Linked DNA regions of Homo sapiens. The protein of the gene in region 3 purifies or fractionates together with the protein of the main gene of each other region. This does not show direct contact. Each region holds a gene or a part of one and is shown on either strand. Other genes may lie near its edges.

Region 1 (3,522 bases), about 140 Mb from region 3:
TTTTTTTCTGTTCCTTCCCAGCAAATCCCTCTTACTTTGCCTGTCTCTGTCTGGGCATCTCTTTGTTACAAGTTTTGTTTTCCTGCATCTCTGGTTACTTTAAGATATATAAGTGCAAGGATTAAGATAACCCTGTTGTAAATATCCAGATGCCTCTCTTCATTCTTGGGCCTTATGTATTTCCAGTGGACTTGGCTACCTCATGGGGTTAGCTGCATATATATAGTTCATGGGTAAGAACCAAAGGTGGAGGTTTGGCCTAATGGGCAAATATTCTTTAATCTGTCCCCACGTGGGCCTCTCCATACACATGTATCCTGGTTCACTGAACAGATGAAAAAGCAGGAATGAGTCGAAATCATATAATCACCCCTCCCACCCTAAAGGGAAAGTCAGGTTGAAATCCAGCTCTTTCAACAGTGGACGCTTATTCTGAAATAGCCTTCTATGGCTTTCAGATCTGTAGAACAACTCAAGTCATGGTCCTCTGTGAAAACTGTTTGGATAAGTTCATTCGCTTCACAGGGGGAAATTGCTTAGAATTAGAGAACTTTTAAAGAATAGAGAAACTAATGTTTCATTGGTAAAACAAAATTCCATATTTCTAAATAGCATGGTTTGAGAACCTCAAGCAGGAATTATTTTGGCAGGTTAGAATCCATGTCCATATATATTATAGCATTTTAGATTTAAAGGGCTCTTTTGGAAATAATACAGACATGCCAAAAGCGTGCTATGTTAAAATTTGGGGTACAGGGCTTCTCAGGTTCCCAGTTGGGTTTTTAAAACCATTCTTAAAATACAGAAGTAAAGAGAAACTGGCCCAAGCACAGTGACTCACGCCTGTAATGCCAACACTTTGGGAGGCTGAGGTGGGAAGATTGCTTGAGTCCAGGATTTTGAGGCCACCCGTGGCAACATTAAGACCCCATCTCTACCAAAAAAAAAAAAAAAAAAAAAAAAAAAAAAAAAAAAAAAGGTGCCCTGTGGTGGTGGTCTCCTTTAATACACATTTCCCAAGCTAATCCTTTTGCGGTTTGTTGTTGTTGTTGTTGTTGTTTTGAGACGGAGTTTCGCTCTTATTGCCCAGGCTGGACTGCAGTGGCACGATCTCGGCTCACTGCAACCTCCGTCTCCTGGGTTCAAGCGATTCTCCTGCCTCAGCCTCCCAAGTAGCTGGGATTACAGCCACCTGCCACCACGCTCGGCTAGTTTTGTATTTTTAGTACAGAGAAGGTCTCACTATGTTGGCCAGACTGGTTTTGAACTCCTGACCTCAGGTGGTCCACCCATCTTGGCCTCCCAAAGCATGAGCCACTGTGCTGGGCCCCAAACTAATTCTTTAAGAATATGAATCTGTCATGTCACTCCCCTACTGAAAGCTGTGGTTGTGAAATGCTGAGCCTGTGCCCACAGCAGGACCTTTGCTGTTTCCTTTGCTGAGATAGCTCTCCCTATGGCCTTTTGCCTAGTCTCAACCTGTAGGTCTGAACTTGTGAAAGGCACTGTCCCTCAGTGCTCTTTGTCTGTATCAGGGCCCCTAGACACTGTCTTTCACATCCTTTTTCTACTTTTTAACACCTATCACTATCTGACATGATCCTTATTTCTTCGTTTGCTTTTGAATACTGCTTTTCTAAACTACAACTCTGTGTGAGCAAGGACCATATTTTATATTTTCTGTGGGTTACTGCAGTACCTCCAATGCCTGGCAAAGTGTAGGTGCTCAGTACACTCCTTTGTCAAATGGCTGTTTTTGGTTTTGGTGGTGGGATCTTGCTATTTTTTTAAGGTGGGATCTTGCTGTATTACCCAGGCTGGAGTGCAGTGGTTATTCACAGACACAGTCATGGCACACTACAGACTCAGCCTCCTAGGCTCAAGTGATTCTTCCACCTCAGCTTCCCGAGTAGCTGGGATTACAGGTGCACAGCACTGTGCCCAGCTCTAGATGGCTGTTTTTAACTTTTATTTTTTTTAATTTATAGCTTACAGAAAAGTTGCAGTAATAGTAACTCCATATATTCCTTCTCCAGATTTACTGATTATGTACGTTTTGTCCCAATTATTATTATTATTATTATTATTATTATTATTATTATTATTATTTTGAGACGGAGTCTCGCCCTGTTCCCTAGGTTGGAGTGCAATGGTGTGATCTCTACTCACTGCAACCTCCGCCTCTCGGGTTCAAGCGATTCTCCCCACATCAGCTTCCCAAATAGCTGGGATTACAGGCACCTGTTACCACACTTGGTTAATTTTTGTTATTTTTAGTAGAGACAGGGTTTTGCCATGTTGGCCAGACTGGTCTCAAACTCCTGACCTCAGGTGATCTGCCTGCTTCATCCTCCCAAAGTGCTGGGATTAGAGGCATGAGGCGTGCGTGTATGTGTGTGTGTGTGTATGTATGTATGTATGTATGTGTATATATGTTTGTGATCTGAGAGTGAGTTGGCATATTGGAAACACAATGCCTTTACCCCTAATCACATTACAATTACAGAAATCAGGAAATTTGATTTTGATACAGTACTAGCATCTACTCCTCAGTCCATAATCAAGGTTCAACAATTGTCCCAACAGTGCTTTTCATAGCTAGCCACTCCCTCCAGTCCAGAGTCACTAATTACATATAGTTGTCCTGTTTCTAGTAACTATCCTCTGTAACCCAGAACAGTTCTTCAGGTTTTTTGGTCCATTTTGATTTTGCTGCTTTTGAAGAAAGACAGATGTCTTTTGTAGACCATCCCACAATATGTGTTTGTCTGATGCTTCCTTGTGATTAGTTGTGGCTTATGTGGTATTTTCTGTGCTTGGCTCTAAGCCTCTGTGTCTTTCTCCACTCTTGCTTTTCCCTCCAGGTAGAAAAGATCCGCCAGGTGAAAGCCAAGTCTCTGTACCTGCAGGTGGAGAAGCTGCGGCAAAACCTCAACAAGCTTGAGAGCACCATCAGTGCCGTGCAGCAGGTCCTGGAGGAGGGTAGAGCGCTAGACATCCTACTGGCCCGAGACCGGATGCTGGCCCAGGTGCAGGAGCTGAAGACCGTGCGGAGCCTCCTGCAGCCCCAGGAAGACGACCGAGTCATGTTCACACCCCCCGATCAGGCACTGTACCTTGCCATCAAGTCTTTTGGCTTTGTTAGCAGCGGGGCCTTTGCCCCACTCACCAAGGCCACAGGCGATGGCCTCAAGCGTGCCCTCCAGGGTAAGGTGGCCTCCTTCACAGTCATTGGTTATGACCACGATGGTGAGCCCCGCCTCTCAGGAGGCGACCTGATGTCGGCTGTGGTCCTGGGCCCTGATGGCAACCTGTTTGGTGCAGAGGTGAGTGATCAGCAGAATGGGACATACGTGGTGAGTTACCGACCCCAGCTGGAGGGTGAGCACCTGGTATCTGTGACACTGTGCAACCAGCACATTGAGAACAGCCCTTTCAAGGTGGTGGTCAAGTCAGGCCGCAGCTACGTGGGCATTGGGCTCCCGGGCCTGAGCTTCGGCAGTGAGGGTGACAGCGATGGCA
Region 2 (3,522 bases), on a different chromosome or scaffold from region 3:
TCATTATCCAGCACTTTGAACCATACTCAGAAAGGTTAATTTAAAAACTTTTCCCCTCGAGACACATATTACCCCAATGCATTAAAAAAAAAACTATTAAATACTTCCTTTTTCATATGATATTCAGAAATGAGCAATATCTCTAGCCAGGAACAGTCAAGCTCAGTTAAATCAACAAAACCATCATCACTCTTATTACTATCAGTAAATCCAGGCACAAATCAGGTAATTCCGTCTTTTTTAAAAAAATAAATAACTGAATTTCTTTTAAAACAATAAACAATCATAGACCACACACAGACAGCATTTGATGCTGTCACCACATTTTAACTGTTTAAAACTATTTTTTTTCAGCAAGGTACAGAAGAATGACTCTTGCACCCTCTTCTCTTTCCCATTTTATTTTCCTTTGCTTCAGAGGTATGTCAAAGGATGCATAATAAATACAACTATGCCAATGAAACTGAAGTGTCAATTACATACCTGTAAACTATATTTATCTTTTCTGCCAACTATTTAACTTAGGGTGAAAAAGCAGACCTGCTCAGAATCACCCAAACAGTTTTTAGGAATCATTTCTTTGATGTTTCTTTGTTTAGTTTAACCAAGTATTCTCAACCAAATCAGGCTCCATTGTGTAGACTGCAGATGGGATAGTGGGTGGGTAGGGGGAGTGTTTTGAGCCTTTTGTTTTAAGAAATAAACACGTGATGCCTCTCAACTGGGATGATGGCAGTGGGGAGAGAAGAGTGTTAATATAGGCGGAGGCCAGGAGAGGGAGGTGGAGAATATTACACTACAGTCACTTAATGAACCAAAAAGTGAAAAGAATTTCCAAAATGGTATCTACCATCATGGACTCCTGAATTATGGCGTTCTGAGTTTCTCCTTCACATATATTCTATTTCTCAGATGAGGACTGCAACTATCTCTTGGAAAAAAGCTCTGTGGCTTATGAGACATTCAAAGCAAGACCTGGCTTAGATGATCAGAGCTCATTGTCATGCTTAGCAAAATCTTTGCAAATTCAGCAGCAACCTCTGGAGCATACAGAGGCCCCTGGAACTTCATTCTGAAGCTCTAGCCTCTAGGCAGCCAGGTCTTCACCTGCCAAGTCAGCAGGACAGCCCCACTATGGGGTGTGTGTGTTGGTAAAGAAGGGGTACCAAGCTGGCTTCCACAAAGCACTAGAGAATATGCAGGAGATGGTAGCTGAGGCAGGACAAAAGCATTCGCCTTTATTCTAATAATCTTAAGGTATCAAAGCAAATACATATTTTTCTTCTTCAAGATTTAATTTCTCGTGGTTTGGATGATCATAATTAGACCTCTGGAAATCGCCACTATAGAGCCATACATACAGACACACATAAACAGTTCTATATGACTGTCTAGTCCTGTTCTAAACATGGGAACAAACTCCCCAAAAAGAGACAGAGCTGCCCTCTCCTGACCTCCCCCCCTCCAGAAGCATTCCTTATTCGTGGTCTTTTTTGTTTGTTTGTTTGTTTGTTTGTGGTTACCTGGACGTCTTCCATTCCGGGATGGCCGAGGCCGTGCAGCGAGAGGCTGTCACCCATGCCCGCGTCCAGGCCGTGGTGCGCCGAATGCAGCAGCACGTCCGGCCGGCGGACCGAGTGGTAGTCCCTCCGGGGGTCAAGGCCCGAGAGCTGGGGCAAGGCGGCCCGAGGCTGGGGCAGGAGAGAGCCGGCTTCCGAACCCACTTCTTGCCGCTGCCGTTGCCCCCAGGGATGTTGCTGGGGCTGGTGCAGTGGGTTCAGGGAGTAGGGGTCGTTGACGTGGGAGTAGGGGTCCTGGCTCTGGTGGTAGGGGAGCGGCTGGTAGGGGGGTGGGAAGTAGGGCGGCTGGAAGTCCGACGACGGGGTGTGGGACAGCGGCGGGGCGCTCGAGTAGGGTCCTTGGGACACCGAGCCCAGCTGGGAGAGCCGCGAGCTGTGGCTCGGGACACCATCGTGCCGGTCCTGGGAGCGGAGAGAGGAAGGGGAAGAGAGCCAGAGAAGGAGACAGAGAAAGAGAGATAGAGGCAGAGAGAGACAGAGAGTACAGAGAGGAAGAAAAAAAATACAAGTGACAAATGGAGAAGCCCGGCTTTTGTACGCTCTTCCCGGGACAAGGGAAGCAAGGATCTGAAACTTAGACCCCCAAGTTGACTCAGAGGGCCACATGATTTCAGCAATTTCAAACCCCAGGCTTGGGGAGAAAATGGGAAAGGAATCACCCACTTAACTATAACATTTTAGCCGCTTTTTGGGGAGTGCAAAGCAGGCAAAAGGCAGGGGTACAGGAACAGTGTGTATGGAGGGAGATTCTAAATGCCTTAATTAAAATTGTAGGAGTCTTACATATGGTGTTTGCTCCTCTGGGTGTTTTTAACTACTTTTTTCTAACTCTTCCAGAGGTACAAATCACAACAAATAAAACTTCATAGTATTTGCTGTGCTGCTCCCCCTGATTAAAAACCAACTTCTGCCTTCGCTGGAAATGCAGCTGGCTGATTAGGAGGAGCTTTCCACACAACCTGATCATTCCAAGAGCTCCAAGGAATCCACCTGGTCTGAGTTCCCAGTCACTCCTCCCTCTCCAGGAGAAATTAAATAACTTAAATAGTGTTTCATTGAAATGGATCTCATTCGAAATCATATCCTAAGCCAATGATGAATTAAGTTGAGTTGTGGTTCATAGGAGTTATTTCTAAGACTGTTTTTCTATATCTAATGCTGTTATACTCAGGATGTGAAAATGAAGGAACTAAAGTTGGGGTGGGGGGAAATAAAAGCCCAGACAACTTATTCCTGGTCCTATCTGGAGTGTGAACTAAGTGAAAGAAGAAGGGGGAGGTGTGTATATGAGGGAGGTGGACTTTGTTTCTCCCTCTCTTCTCTGGAAACATCATGGTAAACTCCCCATGGTTCTTTTTGCAGAAATAGTCACCTAAATTTCCAAACAGCAATGGCAAATAAAAAGTTTTTCTTTTCGGCCTCTCCCCTCCCAGCTGACTCATGGAGCTCAGACGGAGAACACACAATGCAGAGAGAAGCAGCTGCAGCCTCGTCCAATTATGGTGCTAAATTACCAAGCCAAAGGCGCTCAAAGGAAGACAGAGAGAGACAGAGAGTGTGAGACACACACACACACAGAGACGCAGAGACAGAGAGACAGTGAGAGGAGGGAGCATGCAATTCTGGTAACACGTGAATCCAAACTCACCATGGATGAATAGGTGTGGACTAACATCTGGAAAAAAAAGCCTGGTTACTGCTCAAAATCAAACAATGATTAAAAAAAAAATCAAGGAGTCCAGCAGAGAAGCGAGCTGGACACAGGAGCTGAGCTTGATGTGTTTCCAGGACAAGCCATCAAAAAAAAAAAAAAAAAATTACACCCGCCCCCCACCCCAACAAGATTGGCGATGCCTGTCACACACAGACAGAACTATTCATCTGTCTCTTTGCTGTCTTTTTGGCCTCTTTTCTTCTGCCGTTCTTCGGGGCTCCAGATGCA
Region 3 (3,522 bases):
AACAAAGGGCTTTTTAGAGGTCAAGGCATGATGGGAGAGGTCTAAGAGCCAGTCTTAGAGAATTAAGGTATTTCTGAGATAGTGATTTTGTTCTATGTTTTGCTCCAATATGATGATTGTCACTGAGTCAAAGGTCCTCACAAACCCTGTAATAATGTCTAAAATTCTGGAAATAATATACATATGACTCAAAAGATGAAATAGAAATGCAGTGGTGTCACCTAAAATACCTTTTAAAATAATTCAGTTTATAGAATTATTTGCTAGTTATAGTTCACACCAGCAACTGAATTAAGTCACACAACAATCAGAAAAAATGCATATACTTAAAATAACTTAACTTAAATAATAATATTCATATAAAGTAATGCTGCTTCCATGATTCACTTTAATTCACTTTAGGAAAAAAAGGACATAAAATTAACAAAAATTCCAAATCAATTTAAGGAATTCTCAGTTTTTGTTTAATAAATACATTAATGTCAAAAAATCTACTTAGAAATGGTTGGAAAGGGGCTGGGTGTGGTGGCTCATGCCTGTAATCCCAGCACTTTGGGAGGCTGAGGCAGGTGGATCACCTGAGGTCAGGAGTTCAAGACCAGCCTAGACAACATGGTGAAACCCCATCTCTACTAAAATACACAAAAAAGTAGCTGGGCGTGGTGGCATGCACCTGTAGTCCCAGCTACTTGGGAGGCTGAGGCAGGAGAATTGCTTGAACTCGGGAGGCAGAGGTTGCAGTGAGCCGAGATTGCACCACTGCACTCCAGCCTGGCTGATGGAGTGAGACTCAGTCTCAAAAAAAAAAAAAAAAAAAAGGAAGTTGGAAAGGAGTATTTACTGATAAATATTACTATTTATTCAACATAGTTGGAAAACAAGCATTGCATAGTATCATGTAAAGCAGATCACTCCCTTTAAACGTTGGGGGCAAAGTTAAAAGCAAAAACAACTGAGAAACAACTTTTCATTTTTATGCTGACTTACAAAGTCCTCACATAAAAACTTATAGATTTAATCAACCCTCTTTGCCACTGTCTTTTGTGTCTTCCTTATAATCTTACTTGCTAACTAACTTTCACCCAACAGTTCAGTGCCCTTCTGCCAACCATAAGAAGGGACTAAAACCACCATATAAGGTTACATCAAGTTTGCCAACAATTTGGTAAATAGTATGACCAAAGTAATCACATGGTTGCATGTGGCCACCAAAATAACTGACAGTTTTTGATAACATGATTTTTGTTTAAGGATTTGTGTTTGCCCTACACAGGCTGAAAGTGCAACAATTCCAATATATAATCAGTTCATTTTATATTAAATCTGTAATTAATGCAGAGCAGTTCAACTTAAATATGGTACTTCAATACCACTTTATGCTACATTGTTTGATTTAAAACCCTGGTTTATCATCTAACTAAAACACAGGAATGATTTGCTCAGACAAATCACATCTGCTGAAGCTATCTTGTTTGTTTCTTGGACTGACATACTGAAAACCACAGGAATATTATAGGAAACATATCTACAAAATTCAAAAAAAATTATACATATTGATAATTTTTTAAAAATTATCAATTGCTTGCAAAACTAACCCAGCACAATCTGAAAACAATTAAAAAAAGAAATGAGGTTGCTTATGAAGGCTATAGCTTTGGTGACAACTTAGAACCAAATTAGATCTGCAGTTGATTCAGACATAAACAGTGTTCATGCCTGATGTTTCCGTTTATTTGCAGGGTTTTATGGCTACAGCATATTCTTCACTCATTGCACACATGACAGACACCTAGAAGGAAAAAAGCAGGCAAAACGTTATTCAGAAGACAATACATATAGAAGATATAATTAGTTCCTCATATATTGTATATTTGTGGATATTTTGTACATATGGACTTCTGAAAGGGGTATTCCAAAACAAGCTACTTTCTTTACAGTTTTCTAAAGCAGAATTTCTCAGAGTGGTTTGTAAGACAACTTCCAGGGAACAGGAAAAATAACTATAAATGTTTGAACACTTACTACCCGTTACATTTCTGAAAGTTGTAACGAAGACAGTAAATCTCCTTCACTCTTTAACATTCCACTAGCATCATTTCTTACCTGTAAGAATAGCTCAGGGCTGGGCGCCTTGCTCAGGCCTGTAATCCCAGCACTTTTGGGAGGCCAAGGTTGGGGGATCACCTGAGGTCAGGAGTTCAAAACCAGCTTGGCCAACATGCTGAAACCCAATCTTTACTAAAAATACAAAAATTAGCCAGATGTGGTGGCACGCGCCTGCAATCCCAGCTACTCAGGAGGCTGAGGGGAGAATCGCTTGAACCTGGGACGCGGAGGTTGCAATGAGCCGAGATCACGCCACTGCACTCCAGCCTGGGTGACAGAGGGAGACTCCGTCTCAAAAAAAAAAAAAAAGTCAGGTGCAGAGCTTCAAAACAAATTTGGGTTTGAGAGTAATGCTGATGTAGCAAAAATGAACTTTGATACTTTCTTTGATAATGAGTCTCTAAGGGTTTTATGGAAAACCTGCCTGAGAGATCATTTTCAACATTTTAGCAGTATTTTTAAACCACATTCCATATGTAGTATTTTATGTTAACTAGTTGAGGTCAAAGTTTTTATAAAATGGTTTTCAAAAATAATCCTTCTCTAAGTCTTTACCTGTACATCTTCACCTGCATTGTATTTTCCCTCTATTTCTTTGCCTAGTTCACCTTCTGGCAGTTTAAGATCCTCACGAACTTCACCAGTTTCTGTCAGCAGGGAAAGGTAACCATCTTGAATGCATATCAGCTATTAGAAGAAATTATATCATTTGTGCTGATTAGATTATATCCACTTCTGTGTAATGCTTACATAGTTAAATTGCAATTGATATTAATTCATATAAGTATACAGTAATATATTAATATTCTTGGTATTTAAAATGCTAAAAATATAAAAAATATAAAATATGTACAGAATGGAAATATAAGTTTACTCCTCCCGGTACTTCCCATACCCAATCTCTGCCTTGTTAAACAGTTTAGGTTTCTTTATAGTGTATTCCATTTATGTTCACAAAATAAATATAGTTGCTGTTTTGTTTTTTTTTTTAATCAAAATGGGATATTGGGCCAAGTGCGGTGGCTCACGCCTGTAATCCCAGCACTTTGGGAGGCCGAGGCGGGCGGATCATGAGGTCAGGAGATTGAGACCATCCTGGCTAACACGGTGAAACCCCATCTCTACTAAAAATACAAAAAATTAGCCAGGTGTGGTGGCAGACACCTGTAGTCCCATCTACTTGGGAGGCTGAGGCAGGAGAATGGCGTGAACCCAGGAGGTGGAGCTTGCGGTGAGCCAAGATCGTGCCCCTGCACTCCAGCCTGGGCGACAGAGCGAGACTCTGTCTCAAAAAAAAAAAAAAAAAAAAAAGAGATATTATAAGTACTTTACAGTGAGCTGTTTTGACTTAATAATATGTCTTATAAATACTTTCTAAGCAGAAAATGTAAACCTACCTTAGTTAACTACCACATA
Region 4 (2,657 bases), on a different chromosome or scaffold from region 3:
GAGAAAGTGGGATTTAAAAATTTTATACATGGGTTGCCCCTCAAATATGAAGCCACATTACCATGCACAATCTGAAGCAAGATACCTCTGAGCCCTCCTTAAAGCTATTACTTGAGAAAATCCAGCTACTGCAAAAAGAATCAAAATAAAACAGGAATAAAAAAGCTCACTCTAAGAGTGGTGATAAACACTGAATCCATTTACACATAGAACTAAGGCTATCCAAATAGCTGTGATAATTATGATACTGGCCAGGCGCGGTGGCTCATGCCTGTAAATCCCAGCACTTTGGGAGGTCGAGGTGGACGGATCACTTGAGGTCAGGAGTTCAAGACCAGCCAACATGGCGAAACCCCGTCTCTATTAAAAATACAACATTAGCAGGGCGTGGTGGTGGGCGCCTGTAATCCCAGCTACTCAAGAGGCTGAGGCAGGAGAATCGCTTGAACCTGGGAGGCAGAGGTTGCAATGAGCCGAGATAGTGCCACTGTACTCCAGGCTGGGCGACAGAGTGAGGCTCCATCTCAAAAAAAAAAAAAAAAAAAAAGATACTGGGTCCAGGCACGGTGGCTCATGCCTATAATCCAAGCACTTTGGGATGCCGAGGCAGGTCGGGAGCTTGAGGTCAGGAGTTTGAGACCAGCCTGGCCAACAACAGTGAAACCTGTTTCTACCAAAAATATAAAAAATTAGCTGGGTGTGGTGGTGGGCACCTGTAATCCCAGCTACTCAGGAGGCTGAGGCAGGAGAATCACTTGAACCTGGGAGGCAGAGGTTGCAGTGAGCCGAGATAGCACCATTGCACTCCAACCTGGGTGAAACTCCGTCTCAAAAAACAAAAAAGATACTGAAATATTTCAAGGTAGGAATAGGGTATAAATTTCCTTATCTACTATGGTAAGGAGCCAGATGCATACTATCTAAAACTGAAACACAGAAAGAATGTTATTTTCTGTTAATAGCAGAAGCACCTTTCAGAAACTTGGGCCTCTTAGGTAAAGAACCTATTACCAAAAGTCCAGGCCAGGCGTGGCAGCTCACGCCTGTAATCCCAGCACTTTGGGAGGCTGAGGTGGGCGGATCACAAGGTCAGGAGATCAACACCATCCTGGCTAACACAGTGAAACCCCGTCTCTACTAAAAATACAAAAAAAAATTAGCTGGGCTTGGTTGCGGGCGCCTGTAGTCCCAGCTCCTTGGGAGGCTGAGGCAGGAGAATGGCATGAACCCGGGAGGCGGAGCTTGCAGTGAGCTGAGATTATGCCACTGCACTCCAGCCTGGGCGACAGAGCAAGACTCCGTCTCAAGAAAAAAGAAGGAAAAAAAAAAAAATCCAGTAACTGCTTCACTTATACTTAACATTCCTTCTGTTAATTTGTACAAAAATTTGTTCTAAGACTTTTAATTACCATATTAGTGAATTTTCCTATTTTAGGAAAATTATTTTCGTCTAGCCATCCATACATTCATCTGACTTGCTATTTGTCTTTATGTCAAAAATGATTGTTGGAATAATGGTTATTAACATTGATAATAGTTTTAATTTCTGGCCAGGCATGGTTCATGCTTGTAATCACTTTGGGAGGCCAAGGCGGGAGGATCGCTTGAGTCTAGGAGTTCGAGACCAGCCTGGGCAACATGACGCAACCTTGTCTCTACAAAAAATACAAAAATTCCATCCTGGCCAACACAGTGAAACCCTATCACTACTAAAAATACAAAAACTAGCCGGGCGTGGTGGCGGGCACCTGTAATCCCAGCTACTAGGGAGGCTGAGGGAGGGGAATTGCTAGACCCCGGGAGCTGGAGGTTGCAGTGAGCCAAGAACGTGCCACTGCACTCCAGCCTGGGCGACAGAGAGAGACTCCATCTCAATAAATAAATCAATCAATAAATATTAAAAAAAAAAAAAAAAGACTGGCTGGATTATAAATTTCTTTTTTTTTTTTTGAGACAGAGTCTCCTCACTCTGTCGCCAGGCTGGAGTAGAGTGGTGCGATCTTGGCTCACTGCAACCTCTACCTCCTGGGTTCAAGCGATTCCCTGCCTCAACCTCCCAAGGAGCTGGGACTACAGGCACGTGCCACCACGCCCAGCTAATTTTTTATATTATAGTAGAGACAGGGTTTCACCACATTGGCCAGGATGGCCTCGATCTCCTGACCTTGTGATCCACCCGCCTTGGCCTCCCAAAGTGCTGGGATTACAGGCATGAGCCACCACACCTGGCCTAAATTTCTTAAAATAATTTTTTAATTCCCAAATTTTCTGTAATTTGCTTATGATATTTTATAAGTAAACAAAAGGTTTTTCATTTATTTAAAAATAATGCCAGAAATCCACAAACTCAAATTAATAAAGGGCTTCTCACCTAAATTAGCACTCTTGAGCATGCTGACCAGTGCTGGCATAAGCTGAAACTCAAATATCCTTTGGCCTCCACACTGGCTGCAGGCTGGGAGCTCGGTGACTTCTGATGTAGGGCAGGTCAAAAAGAGTGGCTCTCCACTCCAGGAATACCTAGGACAAGGAAACAAAGAACCCCGAATCAGAGCCACACAAGTCGCATTCTAGCATCTAAGGCCATGCTTTGCAACCTTTCTTTGTTTCTTGCAGAAATCTCCCAGAGGCCCAAAAACCTAGCACCATGGCTGTAA
Region 5 (3,522 bases), on a different chromosome or scaffold from region 3:
CTCAGGAGGATGAGGCAGGAGAATCGCTTGAACTTGGGAGGTGGAGGTTGCAGTGAGCCAAGATCGCACCACTGCACTCCAGCTTGGGCAAGAGTGAGACTTTGTCTCAAAAAATAAATAAATAAATAAATAAATAAATAAATAAAAAGGTGAGACCAATTTAAAAAAATGAAGCCCAAGGCAGTAAATAATTTTATACTTTTTTTTTCCCAGGAATGGTGGTTAGGTAAAAAAATATGCTAAGATAAATATGGATCCTAATCACAACCATCCATGCTTATAACCAACCTGTGCAGGTTTTACCTTCATTTGCCTTAAGCATACCTGCCCATTTGCCTTCTTCCTATTATTTTCAAATGTAATATGAACTTATAAGTATTTTATGTGTCACCTTAATATTTAATTCTTTTGCCACTAGACTTGGCTTGAGAGGGAGACGGCATTTATTTTTCTGAAAAAAGGACTGTACTCGTTCCATACTTCTTTGGAGAACAACCTATAGAAAGAGATGTGATACTGTAAGTACATAATGAAAATGAAGATCTATTTTTCAGACAAGTTATGCTGTGGATACAATTTATAAAATGCCCAGTTGTCAAACGGTGAAAAAAAGGTTGTTACTAAAGAGAGTTAATTTTTACTATAAAACTAGAATGGCCAAAGGCTATAAATATAGTGGGCAAAGGTACATTTGGCCAACCAATGTATACGAAAATGTTAAAGCTCACTAATAGTCAAAGAAATAGAAGCCAAACAAAAATGAATGCAGTTTTTCACCTATCAGATGAAAATTTAAAACAACATCCTGTGTTAGGAAACGATTTCATAACTTATTGGTAGGGAGAGAGGTGTACACAGGTGTAGCTTCTTTTGTAGAGCAATGTAACAACTATTATAACTAAAAATACATGTCGCTCTTGACTCAGCTATTTCACCTGTAGGAATTTTCTGAAAGAAATACTAGCAAAGAAATAAAAATGTACACACCAACCAAAGTTCATTGCAGTATTGTTTAGTAAAGAGAAAACAGGTAAACAATGTATATAGAGGTAATAGTTTATAATTAAGATTGTATGTAATATTTCCCCAAATTAATCTATAATTCTTATCAAAATTCCAACTGCCTTTTTGCAGCAATGGATACACGGTTCCTAAAATTCATATGAAATTGCAAGTGTCCCCTGAATAGCCAAAAATAATAATGAAAAAGAACAAAGTAGGAGGACTTACATTGTCCAATTTCAAAACTTACTATAAAACTATGGTAATTAAAAAAAGTATAGGCTGGGTGGATGGCTCATATCTATAATCCTAGGACTTTGGGAGGCCAAAATGGGAGGACTGCTTGAGCCCAGGAGTTCAAGACCAGCCTGGGAAACATGGCAAAACCCTGTCCCTACAAGAAAAAAAAAAAAAAAAAAAAAAGACAGGCATGGTGGCAAACACCTGTGGTCCCAGCTACTTGGGAGGCTGAAGCGAGAAGATCACTTGAGCCCAGGAGGCTGAGGCTGTGGTGAATTGTGATCACACCACTGCACTCCAGCCTGGGCAACAGAGAGACCTCATCTCAAGGAAAAAAAGGAAAAAAAAAAAAAAAACAAATATAGCATATGGATAGACATATATGATATAGAATTGAGAGTCTAGAAAAAAACCCATATATGTGGTCAACTTTTTTATTTAAAAATTTTTAACAGAACACTTCACGAATTTGCATGTCATCGTAGTGTAGGGGGCATGCTAATCTTCTCTGTATCATTCCAATTTTAGTATATGTGTTACCGAAGCAAGCACAGGGTCAACTGATTTTTGACAAGTACGCCAAAACCATTCAAGAGGAAGGAGGGGGTCTCTTTAACAAATGGTGCTAAGACAACTGGATAACCTCATTCAAAAGAATAAAGTTGGGCCTCTACTTCATACCACAACGGATCAAAGACCTAAACATAAGAGCTAAAACTAGAAAAGCTTAGAAGAAAACACAGGTGTACATCTTTATGGCATTAGATTTAATGATGGATTCTTAGATATGACACTAAAAGCATGAGCCACAAAAGAAAAAAATAGATAAACTGGACTTCATCAAACTTAAACATTTTTGTATTAATATATTAAAGGACACTATTAAGGAATTAAAAAGACAACTGCAGAATGAAAAAAATATTTGCAAATAGTGTATGTGATAAAGGTCTAGTATCCAAAATATATAAATAACTCTTACAACTCAACAACAAAAAAGACATTCCAATTTAAAATGGACAAAGGACTTTGAATAGATATTTCTCCAAAGAATACAAATGGCCAATAAACATATGAGAATGTGCTCAATATCATTAGTCACTAGGGAAATTCAACTCAAAACCACAACGAGATACTGCTTCACACCCACTAGAATGGCCATAATCAAAAAACAGGAAAAAAAACAATGTTGGTGAGGATGTGGTGAAACTGGAACCCTTCTATATTGCTGGTGGGAATGTAAAGTGATATAGCTGCTACAGACAATAATTCTATGATTCCCCAAAAAGTTAAGCACAGAACTACCATATGACCTAGCTCTGCCATTCCTAAGTGGAAACAGTTGTTTAAACACAAATTTATACATGAATATTCATAGCAGTATTCTTTTTTTTTTTTTGAGACAGAGTCTTGCTCTGTCGCCCAGGCTGGAGTATAGTGGCTCGATCTCGGTTCACTGCAAGCTCCGCCTCCCGGGTTCACGCCATTCTCCTGCCTCAGCCTCCCGAGCAGCTGGGACTGCAGGCGCCCGCCACCATGCCTGGCTAATTTTTTGTATTTTTAGTAGAGACGGGGTTTCACCATGTTAACCAGGATGGTCTCGATCTCCTGACCTCGTGATCTGCCCGCCTGGGCCTCCCAAAGTGCTGGGATTACAGGCATGAGCCACCACGCCTGGCCAGCAGTATTATTATTAATAGTCAAAAAGTGGAAACAACCCAAATGTCCACCAACTGATGAATGTTTAAACCAAATGTGGTATATCCACACAATGGAATATTATTCAACCAAAAATGGCATGTAGTACACATGCTAGAACACAGATGAACTCTGAAAACTTTATGCTAAGTGAAAGAAACTAGACAGAAAAGTCCATGAAGTGTCCAGAATATCCATATAGAAGTATAGACGTATCCATATTGACAGAAAACAGTTTAGTGGCTGGGAGGGGAAAATGGGGACATGCTTTCTTTTTGGTGTGATGAAAATACTGTGGACTTTGATAGTGGAGGTAAAGGAATTCAAGAAAACAATTTTCATCAGAAAGGAATAAATAAGCATGGAAATAAATAAGCATGGGAAAATCACTGATTTTAATAGGTTGTGAAATATGTTCCTATATATTTTAAACAATCTTTGAATTTATCTGCCCCAAATAGCATGGGTATAGTTAGAGTTCTACTGGGAGTCTACCAATAAAGAATAGCAACTTAATTAGTCAGCACCATAAAGATCCTTCCTTTAACATTAACACATTTATATTACCTTTTATGGGTACATACC

Evidence for each region.
Region 1: the proteins of EIF5A2 (region 3) and TRIM71 purify together in Homo sapiens (affinity purification with western blotting, with the first as the bait; one study listed by BioGRID). This does not show direct contact.
Region 2: the proteins of EIF5A2 (region 3) and TFAP2B purify together in Homo sapiens (affinity purification with mass spectrometry; one large-scale study listed by BioGRID and IntAct). This does not show direct contact.
Region 4: the proteins of EIF5A2 (region 3) and PDCD2L purify together in Homo sapiens (affinity purification with mass spectrometry; one large-scale study listed by BioGRID and IntAct). This does not show direct contact.
Region 5: the proteins of EIF5A2 (region 3) and PIK3C2A purify together in Homo sapiens (affinity purification with mass spectrometry; one large-scale study listed by BioGRID and IntAct). This does not show direct contact.

What each region holds. Positions count from the first base shown.
Region 1 is NC_000003.12:32,887,496-32,891,017, forward strand, and holds part of TRIM71 (E3 ubiquitin-protein ligase TRIM71), read left to right. Parts: intron 1-2,864; coding exon 2,865-3,522.
Region 2 is NC_000006.12:50,821,867-50,825,388, reverse strand, and holds part of TFAP2B (transcription factor AP-2-beta), read right to left. Parts: intron 3,256-3,522; coding exon of another isoform or gene 3,229-3,255; intron 1,983-3,228; coding exon 1,524-1,982; intron 1-1,523.
Region 3 is NC_000003.12:170,891,631-170,895,152, forward strand, and holds part of EIF5A2 (eukaryotic translation initiation factor 5A-2), read right to left. Parts: intron 2,794-3,522; coding exon 2,662-2,793; intron 1,790-2,661; coding exon 1,730-1,789; 3' UTR 1-1,729. UniProt on the Homo sapiens protein: Translation factor that promotes translation elongation and termination, particularly upon ribosome stalling at specific amino acid sequence contexts.
Region 4 is NC_000019.10:34,421,382-34,424,038, reverse strand, and holds part of PDCD2L (programmed cell death protein 2-like), read right to left. Parts: intron 2,521-2,657; coding exon 2,372-2,520; intron 1-2,371. UniProt on the Homo sapiens protein: Over-expression suppresses AP1, CREB, NFAT, and NF-kB transcriptional activation, and delays cell cycle progression at S phase.
Region 5 is NC_000011.10:17,113,970-17,117,491, forward strand, and holds part of PIK3C2A (phosphatidylinositol 4-phosphate 3-kinase C2 domain-containing subunit alpha), read right to left. Parts: coding exon 3,522-3,522; intron 497-3,521; coding exon 392-496; intron 1-391.